Homo sapiens: one gene and its partners. The protein of the gene in region 2 interacts with the protein of the main gene of each other region in a pairwise test. Each region holds a gene or a part of one and is shown on either strand. Other genes may lie near its edges.

Region 1 (8,417 bases), on a different chromosome or scaffold from region 2:
TTCCCAACAACTGTGACCCATGGATGCGGGCAGGGTAGCGGGCTGCCAGACCTCAGCACCTAGCACAACACCTGGTCAGCAAGCGAATGAATGAACAGTGCCACAGAATCCAGAACCTTCCACACTGACAGCTGCATCTGCGGGACTGAACGCTGTCGTCTTAGGCGAGCGGAGGCCTGGGTGTTTTGTGTGTTTTTGTTTTTTTGTTTTTTTTGTTTTATTTTGAGACAGAGTCTTGCTCTTGTCGCCCAGGTTGGAAGTCAGTGGCACAATCCCGGGTCACTGCAACCTCTGCCTCCCAGGTTCAAGCAATTCTCCTGCCCCAGCCACCTGAGTAGCTGGGATTACAGGCATGCGCCACTACACCCGGCTGATTTTGTATTTTTAGTAGAGACGGGGTTTCACCATGTTGACCAGGCTAGTCTTGAACTGCTGACCTCAGGTGATCCGCATGCCTCGGCCTCCCAAAGTGCTGGGATTACAGGTGTGAGCCACCTCGCCTGGCCTCACCCTGGGTTCTAATAGCCCTTTCTCCCCTGCCTGCAGGGAGGTCCTCCCAGCCCCATCGGGCCCTCACCCTGCTCAGACACCAGTGGCTTCTGCCACTCACACTCCTCAGCTAGGTGCCCTGGCTAGGCTAGCATCTTGGGGCCCTGCCTCTCTGTGCTTTTCTGCCTCCAGGCTCTGTCCTCCACTAGGAATGGCCCTCCCTTCTTCTCTTCCTGTCCACAGCGTGCCTGTCCTGCCTAGCCCAAATGCCCCCTCTACAGTGTCTTTCCTGGCTCCCACACTACATATAAGCTCTGAGCTGTGGTGTTCTCTACGGGCACTATGTTTGGGTGCACGTCAATATCACACCTTCCAGGTCAGACACCTCTCTGTGTCCTGGGGGGTGCCTGGCATATGGTAGAGGCTCAGTAACCCAAAACAGACTGGCAGAGGCATGGAATGCAGGCTCCCAAGTGAGATGTGCTAGAGTTGGAAATCCAACTCTACCACTTAGGAGCTGTGTGACTTTGAGCAAATTAGTTAACCTCTCTGGACTTCGGCTCTCTCATCTGTCAAAGAACAGCACCTACTTCATAGTAAGGTAATCCATGAAAAGCACAGGGCTTAGAACAGAACAGTATCAGCTACTACTAATAATAGCAATAGTAGCAGTAATAATAATGGGTACTTTTGAAAGCAATAGTGCCTGTGTGACCCTGGGCAAGCCATCTCACTTCTCTGGTGAAAGTCAGTCACCTGGAGAGGATATTCTCCCAGCTTCCTCCACCCTCCTTCCCCCATTCTCTTGTACAGAGCAAGAAGGGCTGCCTGGAGGAGGCAGGCTGGCCCACAGGCAGGGCTACCTTGGAGCGGTACCACTCTTCGGCTTCATGCATGTTGCTGGACGCCATTGCCTCATACTGCGTGCGGATCTCTTTCAGGGCTGCGGTGAGGTCTGGCTTGGCCACGTCAAGCTCCACATGGACCTGCTGTCGGGCCAGCTGCTCCTGGAGTTCCCGAACCTCCTGACCAGGGTGAGAGAAGCGGTACCAGGGCTCAGGGTACAGGCCACAGCTGGGGTTCCCCACGCCATTGTGTCCTCTTCTGCCTGCCCCTCGGCCAGGAGTTCGAATGCTCTCTTGTCTCTTTCCGTCTCCCTTAGTGTCTTTCTGTTTGTCTTTCATTTCCTGTCTCTACCTGCCAATCTCTGTTTCTCTCCTCTCTCTGAGTGTCTCTCTCAGTCTCAGCTTCTCTGTCTCTGTCTCTCCCTCTCTCAGTTGCAATCTCTGTGTTGAGCTTTCCTCCCTCTGCCCTGGCCTCACCTCCTCGTGGATCTTCCTCAAGAACCGGATCTCCTCCTCCAGCGACTCAATCTTCCTCTCCAGATCCAGACGGGCCAGGGTGGCTTCATCTGCTTCCTGGAGTGGCAGGAGGGGTGAGGAGTAGAGGGCCACTGGGGCCCCAGGCTCCTTCTCCCCATTCCTCAGCCTTGCCTTACCCCTCCTTCTGGGGCAGTGGGGAGCAGCACATTGCTCTGGCGGGCTGAGCTTGGGGGCTGTGTTTGGGTGGGTGGCCATCAATCCTTTCCTCCCTCCCCTGCCCCTCCCCTCCACCTCCCTGACCTGTCTATAGGCAGCCAGGTTGTTCTCGGCTTCCAGCCTCAGGTTGGTTTCATCCTGGAGCCTGGAGTGGGGGGACACATTCCTGGGTCCAGGCTCTTCTGAGGACACTTGAATACCTGCCTCAGTCTCCCTTGAGGCAGCTGTCACAGAGACCACCCCCACCCAGGACCAGTAGAGCAGCAGGAGGATTAAGGGTTGGGGGGCCTTAGACAGAGGACTTGTCTGGAGGATGAGCAGATGTGGGCTTTTGCCTTAACTCATTACTAAGGTGCCTTATCAGGGTTGGTGCACCTGCTTCTGCTCACACAGGCGCATCCACAAGCATACACTCACTGTTGCACACACACACACACACACGCACATGTCCTCCTGCACTTGAAGGCACACATGCATGTCCTGTCAGCTCAGTGAAGCGCCATGCCCCTGGGGATTCCTCTGATCCCAGGTAACCACCTTTTGAAATGAATTTTATTATGACCACCGCTTCACAGCTGTGCAAGTCAAAGTAACTTGATGGGGGTCACAAGCTGGTGGCAGGCAGTCACCTGTGCTTTGCGCCCAGACCTGCCTGCTCTTTCCCTCACTTTCTTCACCCCAGAATCCAATCTCCCTCATGGACATCAACCTTCTCCGCTTCCAACTCCTCCTTTATATGGACACAGGCTCAGAATAGGTGAGCTCGCTGCCCACAGTCACAAAGCCCAGCCATGAATGAAACACAGGGGCCCCGCTGCTCCTGCACTGCTTTCCCCAGTAGGGAGGTGCTGAGGGGACCCTGGACTCCTGGCAGAAGGCATGCGGGCATCAGATCCCCGGGGCCCTGGGCCTGTTTCTGGTCCCTCCCATCATGTTGGGGGGCAAGGATAGTGCCCCATCAAGAGGTAGGGAGGCCCAGGGAGCAGGGAGGTTCGGCCCCTCCCTGAGACTTCTCGGGCACTCCTTCTTGGGGATTCAGCCCCTTCTGCTCACAAGGCCCCCCTTCCCCATCCCCTCCTCACTTCTGCCTCACAGTGGCCAGGTCCTGTGCCAGATTGTCCCTCTCAACCTCCAGCCGGGCGCTGTTGGCGGTGAGTTGATCGAGCCGCAGCCGCAGCTCTCGCAGCTCAGCCTGGTAGACGTCTGCCAGCTTGGTGGGCTCCTTGGCCCGCAGCTGGTTCAGCTCAGCAGCCAGCGCCTTGTTTTGCTGTTCCAGGAAGCGAACCTTCTCGATGTAGCTGGCAAAGCGGTCATTGAGCTCCATCATCTCTGCCCGCTCACTGGCCCGGGTCTCCTTGAAGCCAGCATTGAGTGCCCCAGCCAGGGAGAAATCCACCCGGGTCGGGAGTGGAGGGGGCATTCGAGCCAGGGAGAGGCGGGTGCCAGGACCCAGACGGCGGCCAGGAGCCAGGCCCCCCACCATCATCTCCCCTGAGGAGACGTAGGAGCGGCGAGCAGCGGAGGTGATGCGTCTCCTCTCCATCCTGCTCTGGCTCTGCTCGCTCCTGGGATGCGAGGGCTTTATGAAGGAGTGGGCTAGACTGGCGATGCCCGGGTGCCCCTGGCAACACCCCCTGGCATAGCCTGAGGGGGTGGGGTTGGGCCGCAGCCCAGCTATGGGGAGAGCTCCCCTCACCCCACTGAGGTCACTGTGCCCAGAGGCAGAGCTTCCTGGGCACGCCAACTCCTGCATGAGGCAGGTGGTACCTGGAGCCAGACCATGGGTCTGGGGCCCTGACCGCTGAAGCAAGAGGACCCTCTCTCTAGGAAGGTGGGTCAAGAAAGGGTTGGTTGGACCATGATGAATACTTACAATTATTATGCATCAATTAAAAAGGAAGGAAAGGGCTGAGTGGGGTGGCTCATGCTTGTAATCCCAGCACTTTGGGAGGCTGAGGCTGGAGGATTGCTTGAGCCCAGTAGGTTGAGGCTGCAGTGAGCTGTGTTTGCGCCACTCCAGCCTGGGCAACAGAGAGAGACCTTGTCTCACAAAAAAAAAAAAAAAAAAGGGAAGGAAGGGCTGTACCAGATGACCTCTGACCTGCTTTCCAACTTTTTGATTTCATAACCCAGGCATTATCTCACTCAGCTGTAAGTGCCTGCAAGGTGCTGGGAATTTGGCGAAGAATGAACCTGTTCTGTACCCTCAAGGGCCACCTCATTTCCTACTAGGCCTCATTCCCAGCAGACTCCTGGAGTCCTTCCCTTGAACACAGATGTCCCACATTCCTGCTCTCTGCCCATTCATTCCCTGGAGTTCTGGGGCTGGGGGCTGGGATTGGACACCAGCCCTTTGTCTAAGGGTCAATCATGGCCTCTATGTGGCAGTGGAGGTCCTGATAGGGCAAGAGGGGGCCGGCACTCTCTTGCCTTATCAGGACTTTAGCCCCTGGATCTGTCCCTCCAGGTCACCCCTTCCTTGTCTGGCCTCCCTGTGCCTCTCTCCCAGAGACCAGGCCTTGACAGCTCCACAAAGCCGTTACACATGAGCTGGCTGTGCTGGCTCGTCTTTATTCCTGCAGCGCCCCGTTTCCCTGGCCACCCCTCCGTCTCCCACTGGAGATTTATTTCCTCGAGTTCCCACACATCAGCCTGGAGAGATGGGAAGAACCTCTGGGGATGGATGGGTTTGGAAACGCTGGAGCCACTGGGCCCAACTAGGAGCCTGAGACCTGGGCCCTGTTGTCCCTGGAGACTTCAGGTCCATCTACGCCCTCCACTCTGGTCCCACAGGGTCAGAACCCTGCCCAGTCCCCTCACCCATTTGTGTCCTTGGACTTCTGGGAAGCAGACAGCCCTCCTCTCCCCCCCTGCCACCCACTGTCCATGCCTGGGCATCCCCTGATCCCCTTTCCTGGGCACAGGCTGAATAGAGCCTTGTTCTCCACCGCCGGTGGCGCCACACAGCAAGGGCAGCCCCTAGGGGGCTGTGCTGCTTTTATCCCAAGATGCCAGGCTGTCAGGCTGGGGTGCAATGCAAGCCCCCTGCTCAATGGGCTTCTCGGAAGGCATTTGAGGGGGGCTGGGGTGCGGCGGGAAGCAGGCACTGTGCCCACCCCGAACATTGTGTCTGTGCCAAGGTGAGTCATTCACTGGGCATGAAGAGGAGGCCCTGGGGGGCGGCCAGCCCAATGCTGCCAGGTCTGCTTGCAGACAAGGCCTGGCTGTCTGCCTCCTCCCCAGCTCACAGAGCCAGCTCAGGCCCCCGAGCCTCTGTCAGAGCAGCGTCCCCTACTCCACACCAGGATATGTTCTTTTTTTTTTTTTTTTTTTTTTTGTCTTTTGAGACAGGGTCTCACTGTTGCCCAGGCTGGAGTGCAGTGGCGCAACCACGACTCACTGCAGCCTCAACCTCCCAGCCTTAAGTGATCCCCTCACCTCAGCCTCCTGAATAGCTGGGACTACAGGTGTGTGTCACCACACGTGGCTGATTTTTTAACTTTTTTTGTAGAGATAGGGTCTTGCCATGTTGCCCAGGCTGGTCTAGAACTTCTGGGCTCAAGTGATCCTTCCACATCAGCCTCCCAAAGTGCTGGAATTACAGTTGTGCGCCACTGCGCCCAGCCCAGGGTATGCTCTGCATTTGGACATGTGATGGACAGACTGCCTCCTGAGGTCTCCCTCTGTGAGTCCCAGCACAGAGAGGGAGGTGGGAGCTCCTTAGGCTCTAGTCACATCTGACCTGGGCGTAAGCAGTGACATAGGAAAGAGCATCTTGAAGACGGGGTGAGCGCCCAGTGACCTTTGATCCTGCTATGAACTGGGGACCTGGGGAAGGACAGGAGGCTTTAAAGGAAGAGCAAGGCTGGGCATAGTGGCTCATGCCTGTAATCCGAGCACTTTGGGAGGCTGAGGTGGGCGGATCGCTTGAGTCCAGGAGTTCGAGACCAGCCTGGGCAATGTGGTGAAATTTTGTCTGTACAAAAAATACAAAAAAATTAGCCAGGTATGGTGGTGCACTACTGTGATCCCAGCTATTCGGGAGGCTGAGGTGGGAGGATCACCTGAGCCCAGGAGGTGGAGACTGCAGTAAGCCAATGTCGCATCACTGCACCCCAGCCTGGGTGACAGAGACTCTGTCTCAATAAATAAAAAAATAAAATAAAATAAACAAAATAGAAAAGGAAGACTGGGGATAAGCTCTTGTCTGAACTCTGTCTCATCTCTGTGGCTAGGAGTGGCCCGCCTTTCCAGGCTGCCCAGCAAGTCACAGCATGTAGCCTTCCCTTTTGGTTCAAGGGAAGTCTAGTTAAAATAAGGGCAAAGCTGTCCTAGAGAGAAAAGATGTGATGAGCAGGAGGTGCCTGTCATTGAAGCTCAGTGAACTGTCCCTGTGTATGTGAGACACAAGCTTGTTTCAGCATCAGCAGTTGGAGTCCCCCAGCTTTTGCCATCAGCCACCTCCGTGGACCCCTGTCATAGGCCCAGGTGCATCCTCCACCCCTTCTCAACCCTCAGACCTTTCCTCACACTCAACCCTTAACTATCTTGTTTTTGTTTTTTGAGACAGGGTCTTGCTCTGTTGCCCAGGCTAGAGTGAAGTGGTGCTATCACAGCTCACTACAGCCTCAATCTCCCTGGCTCAAGCGATCCACCCACCTCAGCCTCTCTAGTAGCTGGGACCACAGAGATACACCACCATGCCCAGCTCATTTTTGTATTTTACTAGAGACAAGGTTTCGCCATGTTGCCCAGGCTGGTCTCGAACTGTTGGGCTCAAGTGACCCTCCCACCTCTTCCTCCCAAAGTGCTGGGATTACAGGCATGACCTATACAACCGGTACATATAGATCACGCCTGGCCAACCCTTAACTATCTAAAGGTGTCTGCACAGAGAACCAAAGATACAGACAGATTTGGTCGTGGTTGTGTTCCAAACTTTCATTATCTTTTTAATTAAATATTCATTGTAGAAAGGTCAGAAACTATAGATAAGCAATACAAAAAAATGTAATTAGCCATCATTTTGCCACCTGGAGATAAACACTACCAGATTTTTTCCACACATATATAATCATTTTTTTCAAAATGGGCTCATGCCGTACAAATTATTTTGTAATTTGCTTTTCTCACTCAACAATATGTTGTGAACATCTTTCCACATCAATAAATATTTGTCTGCATCATCATTTAACAGCTGCATGATTTTCCACTATATGCATTCATGTACCAAGCCCTAGTGGTGGACAGTATGACAGTATGTTCTCTCTCTCTCTTTTTTTTTTTTTAGAGACAAAGTCTCACTTTGCCACCCAGGGCCAGAGTGCAGTGGCACCATCATAGCCCACTGCAGCCTCAGACTTCTGAGCTCAAGCAATCCTCCTGCCACAGCCTGCCAAGGAGCTGGGACTACAGGCACATGACAGTGTGCCCAGATAATTTTTTTTTTCAGAGACCAAGTCTTGTTATGTTGCCCAGGCTGGTCTTGAACTCCTGGCCTCAAGTGATCCTCTGGCCTCAGCCTCCCAAAGTGCTAGGATTACAGATGTGAGCCGCTGTGACTGTCCTCTCTCTGTTCTAAACCACACTCTGATTTGCATCTGCTGCAGGCAGACACAGCAAACAGAGAAGGGTAGGCCCTCAGCCCGTCCAGCCTCCACCCAAACCCCCCATCCTCCTAGCCTGGCTCAGGCCCCATTCTCTGGGGTGCCTCCTCTCCTGCTTCCCCAAATGGAAGGCCCCAACTTCTAAAGCCTCTGGCCAAACCCTAGACTGCCTTCTAGACTGCACAGCAGGATAATACCAGCCATGGAGAGAGAAGTCTGGATGCCCTTTCAAGGAGCCTACAGCCAAGCTGTGCCTGCTTCAAGCTGAGGTGAGGACAAGATGACCTTCCTGAGCCCCTCCCTCACATCAGAATCTGCTAGATGACCTTCTGCTTACAGGGTAAAGCCCAGATGCCTCCTGGGACAGACCAGCCCCACATGTGGCATCAACCCACACACAGGGTGCCTGGTGTTTGCCAAATAGGCCAGCCTCTAATTCAAACGGCAGTTTTGCCACATGACTGCTGCCCGCTGGTTCTGCTTGGGCCCTTGGCCCTGGCCCAGTGCCTGGCACAGCGTGGTGGTCAGCAAGCTGGGTGAAGAGAACACAGTCTCTCTGGCTGAGCCTTGGTGACCAGCAAGTCTGTTCATCCATGGCCTGTCCCGAGGAAGGGAACTGAGCCTGGTGGCCACTAGATGGTGGTGCTCAGCTGGTCAGGTGTGAGCCGCCACAGCCACCGCAGTTTAGAGGCAGGGAGAAAGCTGTAGGCGGAGTTTTCTAAAACCCAAATTTGTTTCACCCAGGGGCATCACCCGCTTTGTTCTCTAGACTTGACTCTGACTG
Region 2 (8,005 bases):
TAAAATACAGGAAAAAGTACAGATATGAAAATATGAAGGATAAAAAGCATCTATAACATTAATACTCACCAATACTACTGTCTGCATTTTGATGTATGCTTCAATTGATTCCTATTGCGAAACATGTAGACTGATTCCACTTTTAGCTTTTATAGCCATTACTATCAGGTGGTAATTATCTTGGGAGAGATGCTCTAGATGCTCAATATGTTTTAATTACATTTATACATATATCTAGATGCTGGATACATTTGAATTAGTTCACTGGAGTGGAAACTTGTTCTTTCTGCTGCTGAATATTTCATCTACTTTATTTCAGAGGCAGCACAACTTGTCTGCTTACATTGATGCTGCAGCCATAGTATCTGGAGTGGATTGGGTGACCCGAGGCTGCTGTATCAGGACGACATTCCTTTTGGTGCCACAGCAGGGCTTTATAACCAAAGCTGGTCCAATACCAGCATCTGATGGGGGACTTGTATAGGAGCTGCCAGAATAACTTTTTCCAAGGCACTTCTGTTTCCACTTGCTGTGGGATTTTTGTCTCCACAAGGGGAGAGTCTGAGAGCAAAGCCTTCATAGGGGAACCTGGCAGAAGGTGGAGAGAGCACCTGGGCTCTGCAAAGCCAGACTGAAGTCACAAGCCGCTCTGGACTTCTTCGTCAAATGGACCAGCAACATCTTTTTCTGTTAAAGCAATTTAGACTAGATTTTCTGATACATGCAACTGAAGCACTGTAAATAATACATGAATCTTATCCCCTCAGAAGACTTTCTACTTTGAACTCTCTCAACCAAGCAGTATTAGAGCAAATAAGCAAATTCCTCAGTTGAGAGTTAATCTTGCAAACATCCTGCTGTAGGGAAAGGTCATGGCCTGATCTGTAAACACGGGAAGAGAGCCATTGGACTTGGGAATCAGATGCAGCCTCACACGGCTGCAGACCGCAAGACTCATCCTAGACACAGCTTATGTCACTGTGATCCAGCTGTTGACAAGGCTGGTCACAGTGAGGACATCTTCAGTGTGTCAGCTGAACTACAGAAAATGTTACAGATTCTAATCAACTTCTGATAAAATCATGCGTGGTCATAGTTACATGCAGTGAATTTCTCTGTCAGAACAAAAAGAATATGCAAATAAAAATTTAGACATAAGCCTCAAATCCCATCCTCAGCATCAAATGATGGCTCACCCATTTTTCCTCTGCTGTACCATAAGGCATATAGAGCATGACCTGATCAGAGTGCTGATGTCCCATTCTATCATACTGATGAAGACACAGGTCATTACTAATGAAGCCTCTTAAACCTCACATCATGGTTAGCATCTGCACTCTCATAAACGTCTTAAGTCCCTTGAATCAGGCAAAATCTCTATAAATATTTAAGTTTTTTCTAAAAAAAGAGTGGCTGCCAAACCTCAAGCTAAGAAACTTTCAAATAAAGTTTTCTTTAAAACAAAAGTTAAAATGTTTTAAATTTTCATAGTAACACATTTTTTTTTTAAATTAGAAGGTCTTATAAAATACCGGAAAGACAATTTTTACTTTGGAAACCTCAAAAGCATAAATCAGCTTAAGATCTGGAAATAATTTTAGGTATTGATCGCAGTTCTATAAACTCAATGCTAGAGTCACTGGGGACAAACAGGGACATGAGAATCCTACTCGGAGTAAATTGCCACCTGAGGTGACAAAGCTGACTACGGTTTCCAATCTAGTTGTACACGGAGGGTCAGGAATGAAAGCAAGAAGACCCAAGGGCCCCTCTCCACCACTTTCCTTACCAGAGTTCAGATTCCCAAACTTTTGCTTCCCTTATATTATTTTCTTCAATGGACTCTAATTATGAAAGGAATACTTACAGGAAAGCAAGCTTACTAAATTTGGTTTTCCAAGTTCTTACTGATTACATATTAATCAAATTATTAAACCTTATACTTTATGTGAAATGGAGGTTAACTCATTAAACTGATAAAATTCCATCTAAGATCAAAGGAACTTGAATGCTGCTAAAGGTATATTTAGAATAAACTAAAGAAATCTTAGCCAAAAGAAAGTGTATGTATCTAATCTTTAGAGAGGCTTTCAAATGTTGCTTTAAGCTACTTTTATTAACAAAACTGCATTTTGAACTCCACTGCTTGACAACTATGGCCTTTGTTTCTTAAGTCAATTCTTACCTTTCTGGGGCCTTGGTTTAACTACTTCCTTTGTTTTAAGGACACAAAGCTTGTCAGTTCTCAAAATAAAAACCTGTCTCTCTGGTCAGATCATTAACTCCCTAGTCAAACTTTCAGACTACCGTCTGAACATCAAGTGCTAGCCTGAGCTTGTTTCCAGTCCCCCAACCCCAGGCTGTGGCTGGGGAAGGAAGAGGACAGCGAAAGCTTTCTCTGCTCCCTCGGGAGACAGGAAAGCCCTTTATTTATTCCTGCCCTTCCTCTTCTCCAACTGAAGAGTGTGATCTTGGTACAGAGCAGTTCCACACATGCCACACTGGTCTGATCTTTTAGAGTAAAAAATGGGATCTTCTCAGAGAAAATTTTTTTAAAAACTTCATGTGCTTAGGTCTCAGAGCAGAGAATTTTGTCTTATCATGACGCCACTCACTGGCAAACAAGCTGGCGTGCACAGGGACTTGTGAGGCTCTCAGCAGAGTCAGGGTAGCAGTTATTTCCCTTTGACTGCCTCAACTTCCTATGTTTGTGTTGACATGCCAGATCCTTATTTCTGCGGAATGAGAAATCTCTTGAGAATAAAGTTTTCCTAAACAGAACAAAAGTATCAAATCACTTTTGATGAGCAAACATTATTTTAAACTTTTTTTTAACTTACAAAAGATGAGGGGTAACATTTACTAGTTTTACAGAAATTTTCTTTAAACAGAACATTAGTGAACCAAATAACCAATTCTCCTCAAACATGATAGACAGGATGGAGGTTATCACTTTGATCATTTTAACCTCCAACATAGTAATTTGTAAACATCAGTCGCTGCACAAGTATTTTAATAACAGGCCAGCCCACGGGAGTAAACAGCACCTTAGCCTCGAGACCTGTTCTCTCAACTGTGTGTACAGATTTTCTAAGTCGTTATGAATTCAGATATTCCCTACATCTCAATAAAAACACCTAGGAGAACAAGAAATCAGGACATGCATCTCCTGTAAGCAGAAGAGAAACCGAGCACCTGCTCTCTTGCGGGGGGGCAGCTTCGTGTCACTTTCCAACTCAGCCTCCACAGGAGCATGGGCATATTGGTTCAAATGAAGTGTAAAGGACACATCTCTGTCCACAGTGTAAATCCTATTTCCTTAAGGTGGTCAACCGATTGAGACCAGTTCCACACTTCCTTAAAGAAGGAAAAACTCAGCAGCCAGCGCCAAGGCCCAGCGATCAGAGAGGACCCGTGCTCGCCGCGACCCCGCGCTCGCCCTGTGGCCCCGCGACCCCGGCGCCAGGTGTTGGGGGGACCGGCCCTTCCCTTCCGGGTGTGAGGGGCTGGCCCTTCTCTTCCAGGTTGGGGGGCTGGCAAACTCGAACCTCGCCGGCGCCCTAGCCAAGGCCTCCTCCCCGCGCCTGCCGCGGGTTCCACGCACATTCCAAGCGCGCGCATTCGACCCAAACTTCAGAGACGCTTCTGTGGAACGGAAGGATGGTCGCTGACACCTCGCCGTTCAAATATCAGGAAGTTAAAAATAACACGACCATCGTCATCATTCCAAACTTCGGAATAGCTTTTCTAAAAATGGAAAAGACGGTGGCTAAACTTCAATCAAAATCGCTGTGGTCAAGAAAGTCCTGGAAGCTGCTCTATCTTAACTTTGGGCGGTTTGCGGTTAACAGACGCGCGACCTAGAAACCCCAGAGGCATCGCCGGTTTTCCCGTCCTCCTCCTCCCACCACCGCCCAGCTCTTGAGAGGGGAGGGTGCTGCCGGACAGGTGGGTCCCCGGGTACTCACTGCTGCCCGCCCGGCCGCGGCGCCCCGTCCCGAGGCTGCCCAGGAAGAGGAAGGCGCGCTGCCCCGCCCCGCGGACAAGGAGGCCCCAGCGAGGGCGTACCTGCGGCAGGTGACGAAGGAGGCGGCGCAAAACACCCGCCGTGTACGTTTCGCGGGACAAAAACCACGCGCCCGCCGGGCCGCGCTCAGGCCTTCGCCCTCAGGGACTTCGGAACCGCCCCGTCCTCAAGATCGAAAAGCCCAGAGCCCCGCGGCGGCTCCAAGCACGGTGTTGGGGGTGGGGGTCTCAGGGAGCGCCCAGGCCCAAGGCCGCCCTGGTCCGGCGTGGACCCCGCGGGGCTCAAGGCAGGTTCCCCGCGTGACCCGCCCAGCCCCTCTATGCGAACTCGAACGACAGGCACCACAGCCCGCCACGTGCGCGAGACTCGCGCTGTGCCCCAACCCAGGTGGGCGGCCCGCGGAGCCGCGAGGCCTGAGCCCGCCCTGCAGGTGACCCGCGGCCCTTCCTCCTCCAGGTACCCCTCTCCTGCGGCCCCGTCCCCTATAGGTAACCTTTACCTCCCGCGGCTCCTTCCCCTCCAAGCGACCCGCAGCCCCGCCCCCTCCAGGTGACTCCCCCCCGCCAACCCCCGCCACCACACACACACACCCCCTCGCCTTCCGCGGCCCTACTCCCTCCAGGTGACCCCACCCCCGCAGCTCCTCCTCCTCCGGACAACCTGCAGCCCCGCCCCTGCAGGTGAACGGCGGCCCAGTCCCTGCAGGTGACCCGCGGACCCTCCCCGCCCGTCCTACTACCGTCATAGGACCGCCTCCGCAGGCGCACTGGAGCCGATTGCGCAGGCGTGGCTCTCACACGCGCTGCCCTGTTGGCGTTGGTGCGGGACTGCGCAGGCGCGCGGGGCAAGAGGGTGGCAGTGCGCCTGCGCCGCGTCGGCGTGCGGAACGCCGCGGTGTCTCGGCGCCTCTGCGCGCGGGAAGATGGCGGAACAGGCTACCAAGTCCGTGCTGTTTGTGTGTCTGGGTAAGAGGGCGCCGACTTACTCATGTTCTGACGTCCTCTGGAGAGTTGGATCGGGCTTGTGCGCTGTAGGTTGTGCCGCCGGCCTAGGAACCATGAGGGGGAGGAGGCCAGGGACTGGGAGGCCTAGGGTGTTCTAGGAGTGTGCCGCAGCGCCCCTGTTCCCCATCCGCCCCGTGCACCCGCCCAGCCTGCCCGCTAAACCTGGGTCCCCTCGCGCCTGCCATATATCCGGGGCTCTTGGCATCTGCAGCCACAGCCCCTACAAGCCAAGGTACTTTCTTTGCGACTACTAGAATCCCTCTCGTTCCCCTCCAATGGGCCCAGGTAGGCCTGGAGGTTGTCGGACTGATGTGGTCTCTTAGGGGCCTCCTGAGTCCTATGACAACATTGTTTTGTTTGCTAGTTTCCTTAGCCCATGCTTAGATAGGGATCTGAGTTAAAGGGAGATGAAGTTTTACGGTTTCGGGTTTCTTGATTGTAAAAGCCAAGCAAAGGAGACCTGGAGGTCCCTATATAACTTTGGCCCATGAAAAATGAAAGTGTATTTTATTAATGGCTTTTCAGGAACTTTCCAGCTTAAATTATTTTCACTCCTAGAATTTCAACACTTAGCTTGCCTTACTTCAAACATAATTTATTTTCCGTTTGGTCTTCAGGGATCTTCCTTTGGTGTAGCACTACAAGGTTATATTCCTCGGTGCCTCCACCCTGAGAGGAAGGCCTAAATTGTCAGTAGTCCGGTTACTTAAAACCTTCTGTGAGTTTGCATTTCCTGCAGTTTCTGTTTATTTTTACAGACTCCTCACTTTATCTCCTGTACCTTTTCCTGCTCACACCCTCGGGACACTGCCTTCCAGAACCTTTCGTTGTTCGGTAGCACTTCACATGCTTACTGAGCCTTCATCGCTGGGTGCCCATTATGCATTTTGCCTGGAAAGCCTTTTTATTTTATAAAGTCAAACCTAAATATTTCCTCCTTTGCTTTCCCAGATCATGAGTTGCTTCCTTATCGACATCTTTTATTACACAAATTTTACTATAATTTGTGTAATATAGTAAAAGATGTAATACAGAAAAGGTGTGATTCCTTATCGACATCTTTTATTACACAAATTTTACTATAATTATTTGATAGTCTGTTGAAATCCCAGCTGAGTTTAATTTTGTCGATGGCAATAACTGTGGCTTATTTTTCATTTTGTTTTCAGCTTTAGGACAATATATGATAAACGCTGACTAGGTTTTGTAGAAGTTAACTTCTGTGAAAGACGAATTAGAAGGCTTACCTTGTTTCACATTGGTAGTGGGCATCATTTGATTTTTAAGACTCATTGAAGGCTGAATGATGAAATCAATAAGTTTATTAAACAGTAGTTTGGTTAAGGATGGTTACTAAATAATATTCCATTCCCTTGTATAGTTTTGGTTGGTATTGTCGATTATGCTGGCATAATGCATCATGGTTGCTGTTAATGGGGAAGTGTATCCTTGCATATACAGTAGTCCCACTTTAGCTGTAGGGGATACATTCCAAGACTCCCCAGTGGATCCCGAAACTGTGGGTAGTACCAAACCCAATTGCTGTCAATTGGAACATGTGTCTGCTCGTTTCTTACACCCACAAATGTAATACCGTTGCCACCTTAACTAAGCATTTAAAACTGTGGTCGCAACTTTTGCAGTTTGAGGCAAGACAGCAGACGATCAGGAATTTCTTTTTCCTTGTTTACATTTTCATGGATAGAAGATTTGTTCGTACTGTAGATCTTAGTAACCTCGGTATAAGTTTTTTTTTTCTTTCCATAAGAAGTCAAAAACTTTCACCTTTTTACTTAAGGGTAGTGCTTATGGCTTCTCTTTGCCGTATCTGAATTGCTAGCTTCACTACTCTTATGATTTCGGGCCATTATTAGTAAACTAAGGGTGACTCGAACTCAGGCACTGTGATAGCATCACAATGGATCTGATAAGCTAGAGGGCAATAGGTGGATAGACAGCATGGATATGCTGGACAAAGACGTGTTTCACTTCTGGGGCAGGACGGAATGGGATGGCATGAGAATTTATCCTGCTACTCAGAACAGTGCACAATTTAAAACTTAGGAATTATTTGTGGAATTCTTCATTTAATATTTTCCAACTGAAGCTGACCATGGGGTAACCATGGAAAGCAAAACCTTGGAAAAGAGGGGACTATTGTATTTCAATACAATTCAGTGATTTTTTGTTGTTGTTGAGCATCTACTATATGGCATGCATTCCTCTAAGTGGTGTGGTGAACACAACAGACAAAAATCCCAGCCTCTCTGGAGCTCACGTTCTCTCAGTCACCAGCAAGTATTAATTGATGTGCTCAATCGGTTGATGTGAAGATTAAGAAAAATAGAGCAGAAAAGGGGAATGGGAGTGGAGTGCAGTTTTGAGTGGGATGGTCAGGGAAGGCCCCACCTGATAGATGACTTTTGAGTAAAGACTTGAAGGAGGTGAGGAAGCAAGCCTAGGATATTTTGGAGAAGCATCCTGAACCCAGAGGAAAGCAGGTAAAAGTTTTGAAGGGAGAATACTGGCCATGGTCATGAACCGCAGGGAAGCTGCAGTGGCTGGGCCTAGTGGCCAGATAGTTTTTCTCAGTCAGGATTCCTCATCTATACCTGAAAATTTAGCAGATAATTTGAGCGCCTGTTTTCTCAGTGCTTCCATTGTAGATGTATAGGGAGAAGTTAATTCCTTATATACACTGGTCCTTTAGGGCAGGAGTCTGCAAACTCTTTGTTTAAAGAACCAGATTATAATTATTTTAGATTGGCTTCACATGACATACAGAAAGGGTGTAGCACAAAGTAGCCATCCATATGATGAACCTGGCTGTGTTCTAGTGGATCTTCATTTGTGGACATCAGAATTGGATGGAACTCTGTATAATTTTCACATGTCACAAGGTACTCTACTTTTAGATTTTTTCCAACTACTCAACAATGTAAAAATTATTCTTACCGCTGTGGGCTGTACATAA
Region 3 (7,809 bases), on a different chromosome or scaffold from region 2:
CACGAGTTTACTCAGCACAAGGAGGGGGAAGAGGCCAGGGCGGGCACACCCCATGCCAGGGTCCTATCCATCTGCCTGTCCCCACCTTCCTCCCCCACTGTTCTCTCCCGCCCTAGGCCAAAACAGGCATAGGCCCTAAGGCCTGGTGTCAGGGCAGTCTTAACTCTCAGGAAGGTCAGGGAGCCAAGCGGGGCAGAGGCAGGAAGCCCCGCAGCAGGCCCAGAGGCTTCTGTCAGAGGGCAGTGCCCTGCCTGGAGCCCATTCACTACTCATCTTGGGGCCTTGGTCTTGGGCCAGAAGAATTGGGTCTCTCAGCCATTAAGAAGGGGGCAGTACCAGGCCAAACCTTCTCCATCTGAGCAGTCCCCTGGGCAGTGACTTCTGACCCCAAATGCCCAGTCCTAGGCTGTCCCTCAGTCTGATGCCATCCAGGCAGCCATAGGATCAGGGGCTGGTTCTCTCAGCCTTGGCTTGGAATGGGGGGCTGGCACCCTATCTGACCTACTTCCCTTTCCTCCCCACCTGCTTTCATTTGCTTCTCTCCCCCAGCCTTCACTGTCCCCACCCCAGAGCGCTCCGCCCCCCATGCCTGCTGGGCCCCCTCCCCCACCCTTCCCCAGGGTGCCAAGTGCAGGCACACAAAGGGCCTGATGGTGCATTGTTAGCCCAGCCCCCGCTGCCCGCCGCACCCTCCCTGGGCAGGCACTAGGCCAAGGAGGAGCTGGGGGCCCTGGGTGCCAGGGGGCACCATGGGGAAGAAGAAGGGGACAGCACCTGTCTTCCAGACACTGGGGTCTACATCAGCCAGAACTGAGTAGTGATGAGAGTCCCATTAGAGCAAGCCTGTCTCCTTGACACCTGAGCCTAGTGGGCACTGCCTTCTTTCTTCCCCAGAGCCCCATTCTGGTGGTATTAACCCCTTTTTGACCCCTGTGCCAGGGCTGGGGGTGTGTGGTACCCAAGGGAGGGGACAGTGTCTGGGGGTGCCAGCAGGTTGTGTTGTGCCCACAGCAACCATGTAACAGAGGCACGCTGGGGGAGCTGGGGTCCCTGGGGCCAGGGACAGAGGCACTGACAGAGATTTCTCCTTGTTTCATCAGCTGCTCCAGGGGGAGCCCCCTACCCTTCTCCCCAGTTACCACTAAGGAGGAACACTAACTATCATCCAGACATAGTCACACATATGTCCCTCTCTAGCGCAGCACAACACTCCTTATGCCCACTCTCTCCTCCCCAACCTGATGTCCACTCCATGCCAGCTCTCCCAGCAGTGCCAGGCGGGTACAGGGGTGACCAAACCAGTTGGTGTGTGTGGGGCAGCAGGAGGCAACCCCATAATCCTCCAGGCCTCATCCCCACACTCACACATACTCCCTTAGGGACCAGACAGTTCCCATCCTGCTTTAACCCCTCACAGCCCAATCTGGTTCCCCCGTCCCTGATAAGCGGTCTCCCTCCTCCAGGAATAAGTTGGGGGAAGGGGGAATAGCTGCGCTGACTCATTCCCATTCTCGGCTGCAGCTAGGGGTCTCCAAGGCATTCGGGCGGGGGTCAATTCAAGAACACCCTCCACCTGGCCCGGAAGCCTGGACAGCCTGCCGGTCTCCCCCTCTCCCCAGCACCCACTTCCGGTGTCCCAAACTAGGTCAGCAGCGCTCGTTTCCTGTGGGTCAGCTAGCACCGGCGCCTCTGCCCCTCCCCTGCTCCGGACCCAGGCTCCCCGCCCCCCTGCCCCCCAGGGCGCCCCGAGGTCTCACCATGTCTCAGCCGCCCTTTGATACGTGGGGGTTGTGCGGGGCGGGGGGCAGGGGACCCGCCCTCTCTCTAAACACCAGCAGGGCCGGGGCGCCTGGGCAGGCACGTGTCCGGGCACAACCCGCTGCCCACGCCGCCCCCCCACTCCCGCCCCCACCTCGCTCTGGCCGGGACACGTCGCTCTCTTACTTGGGATGGGGTGGGAGGAGGGAGAGAAAGCTGGAAATTGAAAGCAGCGCCCCCCACCCCTTTGAATGGCAGCCTTCTGCCAGGCGCACTCTGTAGGTTCTACAACAACACAGTAGCGACCCCCACTCTGGGCTGGGGCAGGTGCGCCGGCGCCGGTGGGGGGACGGGTAGTAGGTAGGAGAATTCTTCCTAGTCACCCGCCCTCGCTCTTGGGTTCTGTGGTCATGAGCTGGCGTGGAAAAGGTAGCGGCGGGACTGGAGCCTGAAGGAAGGGAGTGGGATTGAGGGGCAGGGAAGAGAGCGGTCGTTCTATGTCGGTTCAGAGGTTGTTGCTGAGCCCCACTACCGCTGGAGAGAGCGCGGCTCTGGAAGCGCAAGAAACCGAATAGTCCAGCCGGTAACTTTCCCCCAAGCCGCGGCTCCTCCTGCGCCCCCCCAACCCCCATGCAACTGGCCTGGGGCCAATCCACCGCGCCAGGGGGCGCGGGGTGGGGGGGGGGTGCGCGTTGTCCTAGTTAGAGTCCGTCAGCGTTTCCATTCCCTCAACTCAGTCCGGTCTGGGGTCTCCCCCTAAAGTCACGAAGGAGACTGGGGGAACGCTCAGCGTCGCCTCACCCCCTCTCCATCCCGAAGCCGTCTGTCTGTCTGATCCCAGGAGAAGTGCAGATAAACTTTCTGGGGACCCTCCGCCTAGGGTTGGGGGGCATCCGCAGTTCCTTCTCTGTCTTTCATCTCAGTTAAAACCAATTCCAGAGACCCGGGGTGTTGGGAAAGCACAGGGAAGGGGAGTGGTGGGAATGTGATCTGCATGCGTGTGTATCTGGGGGTCCCACTTACAGGACGGACGAAGGACACTGCAGTAGTCTCGAGCCTAGTGAACCCCGAGCCAGGAGACAAAAGTGGGGTACACTCACCTCTCAGCCGTCGGGTCCGCTGGCTGGAGCTGCTGAGGCTCACAGTGTGGGAAGAAGCGCGTCCCCCACCAGGCCCGGGGGCTTGGGGCCCTGCTCCGGTCCTGGTCAGAAGGCCGCGGTCAGTTGCTCGCCGCTCGCTGCTGGGGGGCTCCTCCTCCGCCGCCCTCTGCCTCCTCCTGCCGCCCGCCCCCCCTCGGCCGCCAAGAGCCGTACATTCACCTGGCTCCCACCCGCCCCCCCCTCAGGGCCCGCCTCACCTGTCCTGCTGTCTCACCTGTCCTCCAGCTTGCTTTCCCCCCATCCCTCCCCTCCCTCCCCCCGCCCCTGCCACCCCCCAAACTCCCCCCCCCCAACACTTAGAAACACCCTCTGTCACTTCCTGGTTTTTCACCCGCCCCCCCAGGCCCCCTCCCTCCGCCCAATAAGGACATAAACTTCAACCCCTTCGTCCAGCCAGTCCCTGCAGAGCGCAGATGGGTCCCTCCCTCCTTTTTTGCCCCCTTCTCCAAACTCTTACTTAGCTCTCCTAGCCTTTCCCACCCTCCTCCTTTCCCTCCTTCTTTCCTTCTCTCTGTCTCCCTTCACCTGCCGCGGTCCCTCTCTCCCCCCCCTTTCTCCTGCCCCTATCTCTCCCAGTCCACCTTAACTCAAACTCCGCCCCCGGCCCCCATCCAGCCCTTTGCTGCTGCTCTGCCCGCCCCCTGCACGCCACCGCCCTGTCCGCTCATTGGCCTGAATACCCGCTCATCTCCAGTAGGTCTCGCCTTGCGTTCGTCCAGGGAGGGGGCGGAGCCGAGGGGCTGGCCTGGAACCTGGAGAGGAGGGGGGAGGGGGCAGTGTCCGCAGCGGCCAGGGAATCGAGCACCCCCTACAGGGGCTCCCTCTCCTTCAAGAGGGGCTTCTGTAGGGTCAGGACCTCAGGAGGGAAGGGTATGAGAGGTTAGGGATAGGCTGGGTGGGGGTGAATTGGGGACTTAGGGTCTTGAGGGAGGGGGTCCCGTGAGGGGCTGTAATCAGGTCAGGGACCTAGAAGGGAGGGGGAGGGGGAGCCACCAGGCCTTCGGCTCCGGCCCCTACGCCCCACCCCCTCTCGGAGGGAGCCGGGGAGTTGAGCCTGCGGGCGCCCTGCGTCCCTCCCCACGCGTGACGGTGCCCCGCGGGGAGGGAAGGGCGCCCCAGGCAAGCAGCCTCTGTGCTGTCGCCAGTGCCCGCTGCGGCCTTGGCATTGTCGGAGGGGAGGGGCCCAGTCTGCGAAGGGGGAGGGGGCGCGCCGACGCTTTTGCTCCCCACCTCCATCCCGCGGGTTCCCTAAGTGGAGAAACTGAGTCTCCACCGAGGAGGGATAGCTTGACATGAATTCGCTGAGAGACCCAGGTGGCGAGGGGTGCCTGGATGTTTTGGGATGTGTGGTATGTGTAGGTTTTGGGGAGGACCGGGATAAATACTTAGGAGTCCCCCAACTGAGAAAGGTAGCGGGTGAAGGATGTTTCTGACTGAGCCTGCGGAGCTGCGTACCCCAAAGGGCCCCTCCCACTAGTGTCAAATGGAATCAAATCCGGCTACCTAGGGCCAGGTTTGGCTCCCCTGCGACAAGCCAGGCCGAACCGGGTCGGACTCGCTTTCCCCTCCCAACCCCCCTCCGCAGGGGGCCTCCCTCCCTTTCCAGCAGGTGGCTTCTCGGGACACCAGCTCAACCTGTTGGACCACAATGGGCGGCGCCAGGGGGGCCCTGGCCCTCACCCGGGCTGACCCGGGATCCCCGCGCACGAGGGGCGGAGTCCAGGTCCCTCCCTCCCTCTTTCTCCCTCTCTCCCTCTCCGCGCCGGGCCGTGACTCAGCCTCGGGGCCGCTGCCCTGCGCCCCAGCCAGGGGCGGAAAGTGTGAGGCGCCCCTGAGGGCTCAGGCCAAACCAAACAGCCCCCCACCCCAGACATTATCTCACTGGAGAATTAGGGGGGCTATAGGAAGGAGGAGGTAGCGGCAGGCATGGGGCGCTCTGGCTCGAGTAATCCGCTCCGGGTTTTCCTATCGTCCCTGACCCCCTTGGGTCGCGAGGCTGATCACTGCTCCGGGTTTTCTTCTCAGCCCCGCCGGACAGATCCTGGTCCGGAGGGGCCCGGAGCCGTCCAGGCCGGGGTTTTCCCCTTCCTACTCCAGCCGTCTGGGTCGTGCAGGCCTGGTGAAGGGCTGTGCTAGGGGCTAGGCGGCAGTGCCACAAGTGAAATGGAGAGGGGGCTGCTTTGGGGAGGAAGGAGGATAGCCAAGGAAAGGGGGCGGGGGGCAGGGGGCGGGGGGCGGGGGGGGTGGGAACGTGGCCCGGGGAGGGCAGAGCCAGGGCTTCCAGAGGCAATAGAAGGGCGGGCTCCCTGGCACCAGCCTTTGGGTACAGAAACTCGAAAGGTGCCCAGTGCCTCAGGCTCGCCTCGCCCAACTTCCCCCATGTTTGAGGGTCGCGTTCTGCGTCTGGCTGAACATGACTGATCTTTCTGCGGCTAGATTGCCACTCCTCACCTCATTCCCAATGGTCCTGGAACCCGCAGTTAGTTCCTCAGTGACGCCCACCCTCCCTTGTCTCTCTTTTTCTCCTGGTGCAAATAGCTCCCCTCCTTACTCAGAAATCGGAGCGGGGAACCCCTACTTGAAATTCCCTCTTACCCCAACCCCTAACCACGCCAAACGACTGAAACAGCGGCGGCAGAGAAACGCTGACTGGGGACCCCGCCCCCTCCCATGAAACCCCTGCTGGGCCCCAGGGGCCGGCCGCCCCCGCCCCGCCACTAGGCCCAGACTGGAACTGGGAGCTGGAGGGCAAGTGAGGGGCCTGCAGGGGCCGCCTGGGGATAGGAGAGCGTCCCAGATCCGCATGTTAAGACTTAAATTTTTAGGTGACCAGCTAGACCTTAAATTTGGGGAGAGTAGCACGAGTTGGACAAATACCCAGAGAAGGAAGTGTTTACCCTAAGAGAGGAATGAAAGCCCCGAGTGGGAGGACTGAATACCTGGGGCTGGGGACAGCGACTCGGAATGACGGCCAGGTGCGCGGACTGGCCGGGCCACGTGCGCCGAAGGGTAGAAGCATAGAAGTTAGATGCTTGCAGAACCTGGGGGAATGAGGCCTTCAGGTGTTAAGAAAGGCGAGGCTTTGCCTGGGCGGGGTCCTGCGTGAGTGGGTCTGGGGGCCTGTTTCGGAATGTGGGGGGCTGAGCTGCAAGCGGAGCGTCAGCATGCGCCAGGCGCCCACCTCTTCTCCGCTGCTCCCCCCCATCCTCCGCTGCCTCCGCTTCCCTCGAAAAACCCGCCGCCCAGGAAACCGCTGGGGGCGCTCAGACCGCAGACCCCCCACGCCCCCCGCCCCCCAGCGCTCCCACCGCGACCGCCCAACCCACCTGAAGGGGCCGTGGCCGCCAGGGGTACCCCCCTCCCGCCGACTCCCCCCAACACCTGCGGGTGGCACTATTTATAACTCCGCGCCTATTCCGGGCCTCTGGGTTGGAGCCGGCTGCCGCGCAGCGCTAATCGCCGCCGGGATCTCTGCGCCCCCCAAGGCCGGGGGAGGCAAATTTAGCTTCAGGAAGCTCAGGGGAACAGTTTCCAAAACTCCACGTCCCAGAGAAGGCAAGACAACCCCTCTGCACTCAGCCTCCTTCCGATCAGCCACCAGGAGGCGCAGGTCCCCGGCTTCTCGAACCCAGCCAGCTAGGAGGTTACGGTCGCTTCTTTGAAGCTGGGGTAGGCGAAGGCCTGAGGGCGAATGATGGAAAGGAACTGAGGCCGAAGAATGGCTGGAGGAACGGGTACGCTCCAAGGCTGGCGAACACTCTAGAGTCTGAGAGTAACTGAGAAAGTTGGGTGGAGGGAAATAACTCACATGCAAGACAGATGTAAATATGATGCAAATAAGAGCCTATGCCCATGCCGGGCGCGGTGGCTCTCGCCTGTAATCTCAACACTTTGGGAGGCAGAGGCGGGTGGAACACCTGAGGTCAGGAGTTCGAGACCAGCCTAACCAACATGGTGAAACCCTGTCTCTAGTAAAAATACAAAAATTAGCCAGTCGTGGTGGCACACGCCTGTAGTCCCAGCTACTCAGGAGGCTGAAGCAGAATTGCCTGAACCTGGGAGGCGGAGGTTGCGGTGAGCCGAGATCGCGCCATTGCACTCCAGCCTGGGCAACAAGAGCCAAACCCCGTCTTTAAAAAAAAAAAAAAAAAAAAAAGCCTATGCCCTTGGGGATGGGTCTGCGCTCTGGCGCTGCCAGTGAAATGATTGCCACACACCCCTTTTTGCCGGCCTCTTGGTGTTGGGAAAACGTGGGACATCCCCACCCACCCACCCCTCCCCGCCGCCAGATTATTGCTATGATATCCAGTTTATTGCCTGCCGCTCCTCAGACCCTTGGGCCGTGACCCCTCTCCTCCAACTGTTCCTTGCATGCCAACGAGGGTCCTGTATCCGATGTAATCCGCCGGGAATCCTGGATATCAGGCTTCTCCTCTCGCTGTTGTACTTGAGGGTCACATCCAGCTGGTCCCTCCTGTCTCCATTCCTACTCCACCCATTCCCCCACCCCCTGTGACCATTAGAGGGCACCAGGGCACCGAGGGGTAGGTGAGGTTTTAATGGCAAAGGCCGCAATTACTTTTGCACCAACCTAATATCTTGGTACCCTGTCTCCTTCACCTCCCTCCCACCTTACTCCACTTGAGTTCCTGAGGGAGTAATTTGGACACTCAAAACCTGAGTTGCCCTAGTCGGGGAGAGATACTTGTGGGGGAACAGCCACAGAGTGGGGAGCCATGGGCCAGGAAAGATCTCTTGGCTGTGTGGATTAGGTGAAAGGGCTGCACCTGAAACCTCCAAATGGGCTGAGAACAGGGAGCTTAGGGCTGAGGTGGGAAGTGGCATGGAGCGGGTGCATGGAGGTGGTACCCTCCATGCTTTTGTTTGCATG
Region 4 (6,100 bases), on a different chromosome or scaffold from region 2:
GAGCACTCCAGCCCCTGCCTCCATCCAAAGGCTGCCAGGAGCCCATTTGTCCACTGTGGACTTGCCATCTCCATGACAGGCCAAGGCAGGTGCAGATTCCTTGGGTGGCCTTAAGCAAGAAGCAAAGCCTGCCAAAGGGCCCAGAGTAACCGGGACCTCGTCCTAAAAATCAGAATGAGTCAAACCAAGTCTACACATCAGAACTGGTTTCTTCTGTCACGTTCTCCTTGATGTGGACTCCCACCCCCAACGTTGTTTCTGATAGTAACCCCAGAATCCAGTTCTCTTTCAGTTGTTAAAGGTAAAAACAAACAGCTCATTTCCACTGTATACTTTCATAATATGTGAAAAAGATTGCACAAATTATGTTTCATTCTAAAGAATAAGAGTTTCAAGAATACATTAAACTTCAAAGAATCTTCGCTTGTGCTTAAAAATAATGCTGTCAAATTGCTTCATACACTTTATAAGACTTTAGGCAAGAAACATTACTAATGGTATCATAAATAAGTATTATAACTTTATTAAAATGAAAAGACAATATTCAAAATAATGCAACAAAATGAATAAAATCCTTTGTCCAATACTGTACACATAATGCAGAAATCAGTGCATTTTTCTTAAGCATGTTTTAACCTTCATTTAGTTCATACTAAAATATAATAAGCTTTAAATAGCTCAAATAATATTCAGCAGTTTAAACTGTAAACAGCTTGTTTAACTGTTAAGAGAACATTGCAGTAATGTACCTCTGTTAGTGAGCACCTTCTCTTCTGTGCTTATCTCTTCAAGATAAATACATGGAAGGATGTGAAAATCGGAACACCAACTATGTGTCTCACTGCATCTAAGTGAAGCAGCCACAGCTGTGAGAGTTTTCAAAGCAGAAAGATGCTGATGTGACCTCTGGAATTCAGACATACTGAGCTATGGGTCAGAAGTGTTTTACTTAAAAAGCAAACAATCCCCAGGAAATACTGAATAGGAACCAGCAACACAAGGCCAGCTTGTGTTGTATGTTTATTAATACAGTCTAAAAAAAAAAAGCAAAACCACAACACACATCCCCAAACAATAACTCTCAATCACATAGCTAATTGCTTCATTATTTTGTAAAACTGACATCCTAACACTGGCACCTAGAATACTTTTCCATCTGAGTCTAACGTACCCCACTGCCTCTAATACGGCCCGCACTACGATGAGCTACTTCAGTGGGTGGGACCAAGCAGGAACTGTAAGGGAAAATTAGTCACTAGTTCTATTATCGTTTTATTTTTCAAGATGTGTGACAGGTACAGGTGACAATATGGTTGCCAAGTAACCTGCTCTCCCTCCCTCAACAAGACGCAACATGAAACCTGGAAGTATGAGGCCTTGGTATGATTTTTAACCTAAGCAGGTACACCCATGGTAAAGAATGGATACCCTGCCCTCCATGGAAAAGATTGCCTGCAAAAATAAATGGAACAAAATAGAAAAGGCCTAAAAGCCAGAAATCTTCAAACTTACTAAACAAAAATATTTTTTAATGATTCTGATCTAAACAATACTGTATCTTCTTCCATTTGCTCAATTTTCAGTCTATCAGGACTCATTTCTCCAGCTTGAGTTTATTATTCTGAATATATATTACTCTACGATAGTAACTAATTGGTTAACCTGCAGCTATGGTCTATGGTTATACCACAAGTTTATATATAGGTATGTAATGTATGCATATATAAAAAGCTTCCCCATCCTCCCCTCCCCACCATCACATCTTTAAATTATAGACTTGTAAGACTTTTTTCCAACACTAACAAAGTCAGGGTTTCTCAGCATAACAGCATCTCACAACTGCTCTAAACCTTCCACATGAAGACAGAGAGTTCAACTATTTTATTTTGCAATCTAAGGGATTTTTCTCTGCACTTCAATCAAACTGGAAAATTGAGAACCATTTGCTCCTATGTAACCTCTGCTGAACCATGACCCCAAGGTCTAAGGAGAAACCACATAGGATAAATGTTTACGCTTCACGTGGCCACCCAGATCCATTTTTGTTTTTGAGTCTGGCTTTTCTGTGGCTGAAGATATACCGCAGTCAGCAGGTAATGGCTGGATTTGGGCGCCTCCATTTGTTTCTTCTGCTTCCCTAAAAAATTTTTCATATTTGTCCAGGTATGGTGGTCGTTCAGGTAGTAGGTAATAATGTGTTGAACTAACCTTCTTCCCATTTTCAATAATGGGCAGAATGCAAGGAACCTTACTGGCAGATCCTTCGCTGTTCTGTCTTTGCAGTGCTTTGCTGCTGACATACTTGGGATCAGGGGCAAAGCTCTGTGTCGGGGGCATGACCCCATTGAGGTAAGACGGAAGGCTTTTGGGACTCGGTGTGCGCGAGTTACTCGGTGACAAAGGTTCTCTTGGCGGTACTTTGGGAGGCCTGTCTTCATCACTATAGGTGCTCGAAGTAACTTCTGCTGACCATCTTCTATAATCTGGCTTTACTGGTCTAGGAGGTATGGGAACTCTGGGGGGAACCTCAGGTTTGTCTTCATCGGAGTTAGGAGAAGCTCTGTGTATACAACAGTTGGATATCCTTATGGCTGGCTTGTTAAAGGAGCCAGCTGGTCCCGAATGAGACCTTCTTAATCTTCGGTGGGTCTGAGGTGGAGGAGGATTTGGATCTGGGACACCTCCATTTTGGTCAGACACATAGCTGAGATCTGCTGCAGAAACAGCTGGGGTATCAAAATATGCATAGTTGATTTGTCCACACCCACGGAAGCTTCGCCTGCCAGGAACATCATATTTGAAATCAGAAAGTGTAGAGTCTTCTAAAAGGAAGTCTGTATCTGAGCTAGTTAGGAATTCCACCTCACAGTCTGTGTCATCCAGAGAGAGGGCTTCAGAGATTGGCAACGGTGGAAGAGGCCTAGAACCCCGTTCACAAAGAGGGGCACAGGGGAAAAGGGAAGGGGAGTTTTTTATGGGTGTCAGTGGAGGGGTGGAAGCACAAACCCCATTCACTGTGAGTTTCTTAAAACCACATACAACTTGATCCTCTTCATGTGGTCCCAAGTTTTCACTTGGGGGAATAAGAAGAGGGGGCAAGCTGGACTTTTGAGATGGACCATTTTCTGCAAAGCAGTGGCCATTCATCGGAGCAGATTTGGAAGCATGCCCTGGAATGAACGAGAGATATTAATAAAAGATCAACAATCCTCTCTCCACCTGTGTGAGGGAGAGAGCACCCCAGCTACCTATGCTTCCACAGCTTTCTTCCTGAGTGAAACACTTGACTGCTGTCACCCCGAGAACACCCATGCAACCACCACAGGTGTAATTAGAGAGCAGAAGATTCTTAACGCACATGGTGTGGTTCAAAGAACAAACTATCTCCTCTATCTCCCTTGGACATGTGCACAGCGCACACCCACACATCACAGGCAAGTTTTGTGACGTGTGTAAAATTCGCGGAAGATGAATAGCATATAATTTACATGAATACCATACTGTACCAGCCTTGCCATTTAAGACATGCGACCATACTAGGCACGTAGGGTACCAATGAGATAAGACAAAGTCCTTATTGCTGGCACATCATAATATTGTGAGTGAATGGACTTGCCTGCAATGTGTTCAGTTCACACACAGCTCTTGACAAAGATCCAAGGAACAGAATATTCACATTAAAAATACTATTTTTTAAGTTTTGAGGAACATTTATACTATTTTCATCTATTACTGTCAAACATGCATTCGATACTAGTAAGAAAGGTGGGAAATCTCGCCTAAGGTTTCATGAAGTAAAGTATGCATCAGAGCTGGAATGAGAACTAATTCTTGATTTTAGAAGATCCCACGTCCATGAACAGTCCTACTTAGCAATCAGTGACTCAGAATGAAGGCAGTCGAGTACAATAGCTTGAGAAAAACACAGTTATCTTCTGAATCTGTTGCCACTAGGGGTCAGGCTGTTGTTGGAAATAGTTCAGGTTTCCTCATTTAAAAAATAATGCTGGAGGACAAGCTAACCCGAATCCAGACTGTTCTTCTCAAATGCTTACTGTGATCAGATTTTCAGAATACATACCAAGTGGTATTAGGCGCTCCTGAGCAGAAGAGTTCAGACTGTAGGCCATGGTTATCGGGTCAATATTTAAAAAGTTGCTGAAAGGAGAGGAAGCTACTTTGGTCATAAGCGAAGAGCAATCACAGCCTCTCCCATTTTAGTGTCACATATTTATCCAGATTACAGCAGCATTACATCCTCTACTTACTTTTTAAACTCACTGCGACTGCTCCAGTAGGTCTTCCTCATATTCCCCATGGCTCGGCCATTATGTAGAAATCCAGTTTTTAATGGGACTCTGATCTCCTGAGCAGCAACTCCTGCTATTGACATTGTGCCTTATTCTGGGACATCTCCAAACCTGTGAGGCCCAGGCACTTTAAAATCAACCAGTAGCTTTCATTCCCTGGGAGGTAGAAGAGATGAGAGAATAAAGAAAACAATTCAGAAATACCTCCATTAGGACAGTCTAAATTACAGCAAAGCTAACAGAGGATTTGGGGGATGCTGAATAGAAAAAATTAGTTGTAGACTTTCACTTAATTCTCACAGCTCGTGAGGGTACTTATATGTAAACACTAAAAATGATTTTTTGTGTAAATGCTAATCCAAAAGACATGAAATGTTTTAGTGAAATGAGAAATAATCTATTGCCAGCAAAAGCAGACCTCCTACTGCACAGCCTGAGAGTTGCACAACAAATCACACTCACTTGGCAATGCACACAGACCCTCCCCTGACTTATTAAACCAGCCTTCTAAGTTACGGCTGCACTGGGCATGAAGCACCAGTGGATCCTGCTTATTTTTCCCAAGCTAAAAAAGTAATTTCAGAAGCCACTGTATTTTATGCTGTAGAACTAATACTCACTAAAACACAATGCTGAAACTAAGCAAGAGTTTCTACAGTATTGGCACCTGACTACCCCAGGGTCTAGCATTTATCTGGATTTTGTATTTCAGGGTTGGCCATGGGGAGACAAATTCTCCAGTTACTACTTGTTCAAGGAACAAACAGTAATATATGAAGATACTAATTTCCATTATCCTGTAAAAATCAAGTTCTGCAAGATTACTGGCTTCAGTAAAAGCCTGGGACAGCTTCCTCCCTCCCTTTTAAAGACAAGTTAAAGGTACATTCTTTACATCCTCCTTTGTGAAACACCCAGTAACTCATATCTTGCTTAGCTGCAAGGCATGGATAACAAAATAAGTACATTTTTCTTAAATTAGTAGTTCCTCAACTTCAGGACCGCCAATCCCCTTTGTCAGATGTTACAGGTCTGGAGTCCCTATAGCCCCCTTTTCACTTTCCTTTTTTATTATTCGTTATGTGTTAGTCAGCATCAATCTCTGCTGTCTTCAGATAGCCAAGTTTATTTATAAGTTTAGGTTTTTTTCCTTAGGCACCAGGATATTATTTGTCAACTATTGTGTAACACTGACCCCTTTTGGGGGCACGTACATATACACTCTTTAACACGATCTCATTCTCTCACTAAATATTAGTAAGGGATCAGTGCAAATAATATCTGCACAGCTGAGTGCTGGGCACTGTGCAAAGGCTGGGCACTGTGCAAATGTGACACATTTGCTGTGGGGGAGAGGTACACAGGTTTTTTTTTTTGTTTTTTTTTTTGCTCAGCAACTTCAAATCTATTATTTACAAATCTGTCACCTCCTACTAGACTAAGCTCAGGACAGAGGCTGTGTCTCAATCACCTTTTAACAATCAGTACCTGGAACATTAGTAGGTGCTCAGTAAGTGAATGTTTGCTGAATGAATGATTGTATAATACCATCTAATTATCATAATCAGTATCAACTCAATATACACATTGTGTAAGGCACAGGGTTTTTTTTTTTAAAGCTAAAAACTTTTAAAAAATACTCTGCAAGTGTTTATTATTATTTTCCCATTAGAAAGGAACACAGTGATAAGTAATGTTCTACAGGTTCAAGATTTCAGTAACAAAGTAGAGAAGGGAGATCCAATGACTGGTTCTCTGCATTTTACCCTTCCACAGTCAGCTGTTCTACC

Evidence for each region.
Region 1: the proteins of SH3YL1 (region 2) and GFAP interact in binary tests that used the Homo sapiens proteins (3 or more experiments, as listed by UniProt).
Region 3: the proteins of SH3YL1 (region 2) and ZBTB7B interact in binary tests that used the Homo sapiens proteins (3 or more experiments, as listed by UniProt).
Region 4: the proteins of SH3YL1 (region 2) and ERRFI1 interact in a two-hybrid assay, tested with the Homo sapiens proteins (one study listed by BioGRID).

What each region holds. Positions count from the first base shown.
Region 1 is NC_000017.11:44,911,917-44,920,333, forward strand, and holds the start of GFAP (glial fibrillary acidic protein), read right to left. Parts: upstream 3,585-8,417; 5' UTR 3,571-3,584; coding exon 3,110-3,570; intron 2,173-3,109; coding exon 2,112-2,172; intron 1,908-2,111; coding exon 1,812-1,907; intron 1,515-1,811; coding exon 1,353-1,514; intron 1-1,352.
Region 2 is NC_000002.12:260,016-268,020, forward strand, and holds the start of SH3YL1 (SH3 domain-containing YSC84-like protein 1), read right to left. Parts: upstream 4,018-8,005; 5' UTR 3,970-4,017; coding exon 3,969-3,969; intron 2,772-3,968; exon of another isoform or gene 2,186-2,771; intron 1,116-2,185; exon of another isoform or gene 70-1,115; intron 1-69. Other genes in the region: ACP1 (low molecular weight phosphotyrosine protein phosphatase), read left to right, coding at 4,950-4,992.
Region 3 is NC_000001.11:154,997,993-155,005,801, reverse strand, and holds the start of ZBTB7B (zinc finger and BTB domain-containing protein 7B), read right to left. Parts: upstream 3,001-7,809; 5' UTR 2,960-3,000; coding exon of another isoform or gene 2,859-2,959; intron 1-2,858. UniProt on the Homo sapiens protein: Transcription regulator that acts as a key regulator of lineage commitment of immature T-cell precursors. Exerts distinct biological functions in the mammary epithelial cells and T cells in a tissue-specific manner.
Region 4 is NC_000001.11:8,011,227-8,017,326, forward strand, and holds the end of ERRFI1 (ERBB receptor feedback inhibitor 1), read right to left. Parts: exon of another isoform or gene 4,467-6,100; 5' UTR 4,394-4,466; coding exon 4,269-4,393; intron 4,175-4,268; exon of another isoform or gene 4,159-4,174; coding exon 4,082-4,158; intron 3,171-4,081; coding exon 1,984-3,170; 3' UTR 501-1,983; downstream 1-500.